2 linked regions of the Homo sapiens genome follow. The protein of the gene in region 2 interacts with the protein of the main gene of each other region in a pairwise test. Each region holds a gene or a part of one and is shown on either strand. Other genes may lie near its edges.

Evidence for each region. The genes of interacting proteins can lie anywhere in the genome.
Region 1: the proteins of MSRB3 (region 2) and EEF1AKMT3 interact in binary tests that used the Homo sapiens proteins (3 or more experiments, as listed by UniProt).

The regions. Positions count from the first base shown.
Region 1 is NC_000012.12:57,770,791-57,774,537, reverse strand, and holds the start of EEF1AKMT3 (EEF1A lysine methyltransferase 3), read right to left. Parts: upstream 1,925-3,747; 5' UTR 1,814-1,924; coding exon 1,637-1,813; intron 1,522-1,636; coding exon 1,410-1,521; intron 1-1,409. Other genes in the region: METTL1 (tRNA (guanine-N(7)-)-methyltransferase), read left to right, coding at 2,455-2,564, 3,281-3,444. UniProt on the Homo sapiens protein: Protein-lysine methyltransferase that selectively mono-, di- and trimethylates 'Lys-165' of the translation elongation factors EEF1A1 and EEF1A2 in an aminoacyl-tRNA and GTP-dependent manner.
Region 2 is NC_000012.12:65,276,512-65,280,258, reverse strand, and holds the start of MSRB3 (methionine-R-sulfoxide reductase B3 isoform 2 precursor), read right to left. Parts: upstream 1,577-3,747; 5' UTR 1,491-1,576; coding exon of another isoform or gene 1,394-1,490; intron 1,303-1,393; exon of another isoform or gene 742-1,302; intron 1-741. UniProt on the Homo sapiens protein: Catalyzes the reduction of free and protein-bound methionine sulfoxide to methionine. Isoform 2 is essential for hearing.

The DNA of each region.
Region 1 (3,747 bases), 7.5 Mb from region 2:
TGAATGAATAGAAGAATGAATGCCTGCCTCTGGGAAGATTTCCCTTTTTTTATTTTTGAGACAGAGTTTCACTCTTGTTGCCCAGGCTGGAGTGCAATGGTGCGATCTCAGTTCACTGCAACCTTCACCTCCCGGGTTCAAGCGATTCTCCTGTCTCAGCCTCCCAAGTAGCTGAGATTACAGGCATAAGCCATCATGCTCGGCTAATTTTGTATTTTTAGTAGAGATGGGGTTTCACCATGTTGGTCAGGCTGGTCTCAAACTCCTGACCTCAGGTGATCCACCCACCTTGGCCTCCCAAAGGGCTGGGATTACAGGTGTGAGCCACTGCGCCCGGCTAGGCTTCCCTTAATATGACCTAGTTCTGTCCCTATGAACAAAGACATGTTAATTTACATTCCTAGGGAGATGACATTGTAAGAATTTTTAAACGAGTGCTTTCAGTTTGAGGTTTTTTCTGCCCATTAGATTATAATTTGTGAAACTGTTTCCTCTGTAGTTTTTGCTTCTTGACAAAAGAGAAGCAAATTTTTCCTTACCTTTTCCTTTTCCAAGTCTGCAGTGTCTAATTCCTACCCCGCTTCCTACAAAACACATCCTAACCCTTGGAAACTCATAAGCTTGTTTCTCTTAGCAATAAAAACCTAAGGAATCTGAAATATATTCATAATAAAGTTATAAAGCACTCACGAAGTTTAATGTCTGCAAGTCTCCCTACAGAGTACCCCCATATGTGCATCTTGACAGAAGACCATGTCCAAAGCCAAGGCGCTTTTAAGTGACAGTATTCTCCATAAAATCACAAAGAGTAACACAAGGCTGGGTGTCGTGGCTCACGCCTGTAATCCCAGGCGCCTCGCGAGGCAGATGGATCACCTGAGGTCAGGAGTTCGAGACCAGCCTGGCCAACATGGTGAAACGTCTTCTACTAAAAATACAAAAAGTAGCCGGGTATGGTAGCGCAAGCCTGTAATTCCAGCTACTTCGGAGGCTGAGGCATGAGAATTGCTTGAACCCGGGAGGCAGCGGTTGCAGTTAGTGGGGATAGCAGCCACTGCACTCCAGCCTGGGCGACACAGTGAGACTCCGTCTCAAAAAAACAAAAAAAATTAAAAACAAAAAAAAAGCAACACGATAGAAACAACTCCTTCTTATAGGCCTGCCTGAGTTTTATTTCCTGCCCTCCCCAATCACCCACCCTAGGTGCTTTGACAGGCAATTCGCGCTGTCTGGCACGCAGAAGCAGACGCCAAAATAAAAACAAAAACAAATTTTAAAAAAAAATTTGTTAAAAAGAAGGGGTTAGACTGGGCCCAAAGTTCTCCCCTCTCCCCCAAAGATCCACGAAGTGACCATTTCTCCGCGCCCCTGGGTCCCCACTCTCTCCCGTAAAAAGCCAGCTCACGCACCCTGCAGCGCTGCCAAGATCCCCACGATGCCTGTCCCCGCACCCAGTTCGATCACCTTCTTGCCTCGGAAATCCACATTTTGACTCTCGAAATAATTGCACAGGCTCAGGGCCTACGGGAGAAAAGACAGAGAAAAAGACAGTCGTGAGGATGGCTCCATATGGGAGAGGCGGAGTCCGGGATCTGGACCTCCCACGGACCCTCACCCGGCGCAGCCCATTCCTCACCGCGTCCCACACGCGCGCCGCCACCCCGAGGCGGGACCCAAAGTTCTGCGTGATGGTCAGCACATGCCCACAGAAACAGAACTGGCTCTTCTCCGAGTAAGAGTCTGCAAAGAGCCCGACCTCCCGCGGGAACACCGATTCCGACTCAGATTCGGGATCTGGGCCGGGGTCCGCCATCCGGCCCGCCAAGGGAGTGCCTGGGCACCGCGGCCGGCGCTCAGATCCCGGATCCGGAGCGGGGTAGAGGCTGGGGGCCGCGAGCCGTCGTGGTGTCCCTGTGGAACGAGCCCCGCCTCCCTGAGTTTGCCCTCCTTCCTCCAGTTCGATTTCCTGGAGGTGGAATGAGGAGCTGCCCCTCCCGCCCCGGCCCCGAGCGCACACTCGACGAAACCCACACGGGACCACAAGAGTCAGACCGGGCGGACTGGTCCGAGACCAGGAGTAAGGGGACAGGAGCGAGGACTGATGCCACTGTAGAAGGCGAGGTCTCTAGACCCCTCTCACCTGTGGGGTGCACAGGTGCCTGCAACCAGGATGGTAACCCAGACCAGGCAGAAGCAAGCTAAGAGAAAACGTTGGGTCCCTGGGCCTGGCCTCGCCCTCCCAGTTGGAGGCTAACGGTGCGGAGGTTCCCTCCAGCACTCGCTCCTTACAGCCCTCCCCACCTAGCCCAGCCCAGCCCAGCCCAGCCCAGCTGAATTTGCTCTTGGGTCTTTAAGGGGCGGGAACTGCCACCAACGCGCATGGCTGCGTCATTAACTTGCGCCTCTGGCCTGCGCCTCCACGTGGATTTGGTAGAGAAACCCCGGACTGGGATCATGGCAGCCGAGACTCGGAACGTGGCCGGAGCAGAGGCCCCACCGCCCCAGAAGCGCTACTACCGGCAACGTGCTCACTCCAACCCCATGGCGGACCACACGCTGCGCTAGTGAGGAGTGGGCAGAGGGAGAGAGAGGAGGGCGGGATTCTCAAAGCAGCCGGGAGAGCAGTTGTGCTGCAACTGCTGGGAGGATTTGGGGTAGACCCGGGAGGATCAGATGGGTGACGTCAGTTTTTGGGGGTGGGACCGGGAGATTCGACCGAGAGAGGAGTTGGCGGGTTGAGAGTGGGCGTGGCGTTCGGGCCTAAGTCTGGGTAGCGGTGCTAAGTTTGGGAAGAGAAATAAATTGTTACTGAGACTGAAGTGATAGAGGCAGAATGTCGTTTCCATCTTTTGCTTTTGTTTGTTGGATTTAATAAAAAGGCAAACATATACACAATCCTGCCCGCACCTTACCTTACCTTCCCTCCCCGCAGAGCACAAACACAAAGTAGGATCCCAGTGCATTAGGCAGCCAGTCTCGGGAGAAGGGGAACTTGTGCCCCAGAAAGGGCAGTTACCCGGCCAGGGTCACATCAACCGCCAGAAGTGGAGTTGGGCAGGTCAGCGTTTATGGGCCTCATGATGGTCCTATGATTCACACTGGGAGTTAAGGGTGGTTTCCATTGTCCCTCTTAGAGGCCACAGGGCCCAGTGTTACAGAATTTTTGAGAAACCCTCCTCCCTTTTACCTCCCACCCTCACCCACCCACACACTCTCACAGTACCACTTCTGCAATGGTGTGACCAACCTTCTCATGCTTCTTATGTCTTCTTTCCAATAGCCCTGTGAAGCCAGAGGAGATGGACTGGTCTGAGCTATACCCAGAGTTCTTCGCTCCACTCACTCAAAATCAGAGCCACGATGACCCAAAGGATAAGAAAGAAAAGAGAGCTCAGGCCCAAGTGGAGTTTGCAGACATAGGCTGTGGCTATGGTGGCCTGTTAGGTAACACTCAGGCCCTCTTTTTGGGGTGAGAAGAGGCCTAGTAGCTTCTGCTGCCTCAGCAACTTTTGTGGGGGGTCATAATTGGCCTTTCCCCTTTCGTCCAGACACTGGTGACATCAGCATGGAGAGGCTCCACCTACCCTCTACTCTGGGTCTGTGACCTTTGCCCTGGAGAGTGGAGGGGGCTGCCTCAAATGCTTCTTAAAACCTGGGTTGTCCTTTCTGGCGTCAATCCCTACATGAGCCATTTCATCTGCCAGGTTCCGGGTCAGTGAGCTGGTCAGCACAAGCATCAGAGATTAG
Region 2 (3,747 bases):
TGCAGAAAGAAACATGAAACTGATATCACTGCTCAAGTTACTATTTACAAATTGCAAATTGAATAAAGTTAAATATTGTAAATATCTGCCATTAATCTGAACTGACAATTTTATAAGTTATATGAACCCTGAAGTTTTTTTATAGACAAAATTGTTTTTGAAAATCGATCTTGCCACCAGCGCTGCAAATGAAAATATGAAGAGATAAACCAGAGAGTACTGAATATAATCTATGCTTCATAGAGTCATGTTTCAACTAATTTATGAGTCCTAGTTTGCCATATCTTATTTGACAATTTAGTCTATTGGTAGAAAAAACAAAAGCAAACTAAAATCTCCTAAGAAATCTCAGCTCTAAGGAATTATAATTTATATTCTTCCATTCCCGATAAAATTAAGAAGCAAGAAGCTTTGACGACTACTCATCACAAACGTAAAAGTCCATGCAATTTCACATTTACCTTTATCCCTACCTTTGTACTTTAAAATAACTGCTTTTTAAAATAATAATCTGATATTAAATTCCCCCCAACAGTTCCCACATGATTCAAGAAGATTATCTTATAAAGTCTTACTGTAACGACTTCATAACTGCCACTTCCGATAGCTATTAGCCCTAAACCAAATAAGGCAGGAACAGCACTTTTCATTCATATAGTTTGACTCGAAATAGCCCAGTGTAAAACTTCAAAAATAGACTTGGATGCCTTTTTCTGCTTAAAAACAAAGCAAAACTGATACCTGGCAAACTCGGGGTTCTGTTCGATTTTGGCCTGTGAAATGCCAGGCGGGCCCGCTGGAGTCTGGCCCAGCAGCGGGGCAGCAGCGCAGGGAGGGCGGGCGGCGGGTGCGCTCCCGGGTGCGCCCCTCCCTGCCGCCTGCCCGCCGCCCCGCACCCCCGTCCTCTCCGAGGCGCGCGGCGAAAAGCGCAGGCCTGGCGGGCCGGTTCCCACGCCTCGGGCCCGTTATCTGAGCGGCAACCCCGGCAGGGTCGACGCACAGAGCAGAGGGCTCCGGGATGGACCCCTCCCCTGCCTCCCGCGGGCTGCCCCGCCAGATCCCTCTCTCCTGGGCCCGCGCGGGGCGAGAGGCTCCCGCGGGTTCAGGTTCGCTCCCGGGACAGGATAAGGTGTCAGTGAGGCTGCCAGACGCCTCCCTTCGGCGGGTGGGGGGAAACCAGCCCTGACCTCCTTCCGTTCGGCCCCTCACCGCTGGCGCGGGGCGCAACCCTTCTGCTCCCCTTCTCGGCTGAGGCAGGGGCTGTCCCCGCAGGTGGCCGAGGGGGCGCAGCAGGCGCAGAATGGAATCCCGGCTCGGGGTCACACCCTAACGTGGCAGGGTCGGGGTGGGAGGGGTGAGGCGAGGAGGAGAGGGGAGGGGAGCCCGAACTTACCGGACTGCGCACTTCCCAGAGCCGCGGCCAGGCAGAGGCAGAGGCAGAGGGAGAGGCAGAGCGAGAGGGGGCGCGGGAGGGTCCGCCGCGGGCTCATGGAAAGGCCAGGCAGCCGCCGCCGGTGTCCGAACCTCGCTCCCTCCCTCCCCGGCTCCGGGCGACGGACGGGGCGGCGGGAGGCATGACGGGAAATTCCTGGGCACGGGCAGCCGAGTCCAAATATGAGCATAGGAGACGAGCGAGGGAGGACCACGGAGCGCGCCGGCCGCGGACGGGGCCCGCTGCCCGGGGCTCGGCGGCCGCCAACTCCCTCCTCCTCTGCCCTGTCCTCTTCCTCCTCCTCCTCCTCCTCTGCACCGTCCTCCTCCTCCTCCTTCTCTGCCCTGCCCTCCTGCTCCTCTCCTCCCCCTCGTCCTCCTCTGCCCCAGGGCTGCCGGCCGCCTTCTGCCTGGGGGCATCCCTTTCCAACTCGGGACCCCAGAACACAGCCAAGCGCCCACCTGGCGTGTTCCACCTGAGACCGCTGAAGGAGTGGGAAACGGACAAACCAACACGAAGAGACCGGACAGCGAGCCAGGGACCTGTGGGAAGACGTGTCAGGGGTTGTTGAGAGCGTTGGTGGTGAGGGGATAAAAAGTTGTGGGAGAGTGAGGCAGGAGCAGGGCTGCCAGTTAGTTACTTGGCCATCCTATACATACAGAACGAGCACTCACTGTAATACGGAGAACCAGCCGCCTGCGTTCCAGGTGAGCGGGCCCTCTCTAGCAGAGGAGGGTGAGTGTGTGTGTGTTCTTGGCCAAAATTGCAAAGGTGCTCGTCCCAAACTTATATTTGAACACCATATATGGAGCCCAGGCAGGCTGGCTGAACAGTAGTTTTTCACAACAAAATGCTTAAGTTTACACCGGTCTTTCTCTCCACCTCCAATCTCTATTCATGTCCACCCCCCAACCCCCTCCACACACTTGTTTTGTATGTACCGTAGCTTGTCTAAAATGAAATGGTGTAATTCATTCAGAAGGTGCCACCTCTGATGAACAAAATGTCAGTCCTAGATGTTTAATTACAGGCCCAAGCCTGTAGTTGCCTAATTTTCCTTGGCACTGATAACTCCTTGGGTAATCAAGTCCAAATGACCCTTAGCTTTTCAAGACAACATAATTATGTCTTAATTACTATAATATATTTTTTCCCTCAAACTAATGGGACAGGACCTGGATATGTAGGGTATTAAGTAGTTACTTACGAACATTTTAAGATGCTAGATGATACAGAAATGATTTATTGATCCAAAATACTTAAGGGGTAAATGTCAAACAGATTTAGAGTGTGGATTATTTCAACGTGAACTAAAGTGATGGTAATTTGTACATCACACTATTTGTTTGAAAATGCTGTATTTGAAAATCAAGAACGTTGTTTCAAATCAAACTCAGTTCTGGCAAACTATTAAAACACATACACCAAAAAACAGTCCATTGCAAGTGGCTCCCCTCAAAACATCTGGTACTGAAAAACACCACATCCTGTGAATTACATATAGCAAATGGGCAAATGTCACCCTTAATGCATTGGCAATTATAATGGGACTAAGGGTAGATGACCCAGATAAAGTAATGGTGAATAAATTGTAATGCAATGAATAAAGGATTTAAATGACACATAACATGACTATTTAATTAGGTACCTAGAACCTAGGTAGTTGGAAATACTGAAGAAGCTCTTCAGTATTCCCTCCGTTTCCTCTTTTTTTATAGCCTTGTGTTACATAAGTGTCTGTTTTTCTACTTCCCCCACAACACTTTGCAAAGTTCTTTGCCCATAGTCCAAATGTTTGTTTAAAAACAAAAATAAAATGGGCACAGCCATTTGTAGAAAGGAATTTAGAAGCTCCCTAAGTGTAAAGCATGTTTCAAAGGATTGCAATAATTATGCCTATATTTAAAATATTTTAGTGAAGAACCTTACATACAAAAATATAGAATTATAAAAAATGCAATATCATTACAACCCAATTCATGTTAGTAAAAATAGAGAGTTCATTGTATCAACATAGCTGACATCACTGTCAGCAATGCCAACCACTATTCTAAAGGCTTGAATAAATATGCTAAGAGTGGCAGAAAAGAACTAAAGTTACTAAGTGCATGATAAGTGCCAGACACTGTGCTAGATGTTTTTTATAACTGATATCTCATTTAATTCTTACAAATATCTCTGAGATTATTTTTATCCCTATTTTACAGCTAAGGAGACTGAGGCATAGGTAAGTAATATGCTACCAGGAAGAAGTGAAGTAGTATTAGAATTAAATCCTCATTCTAAAGTGCATATATACTTTTACCATACTAATC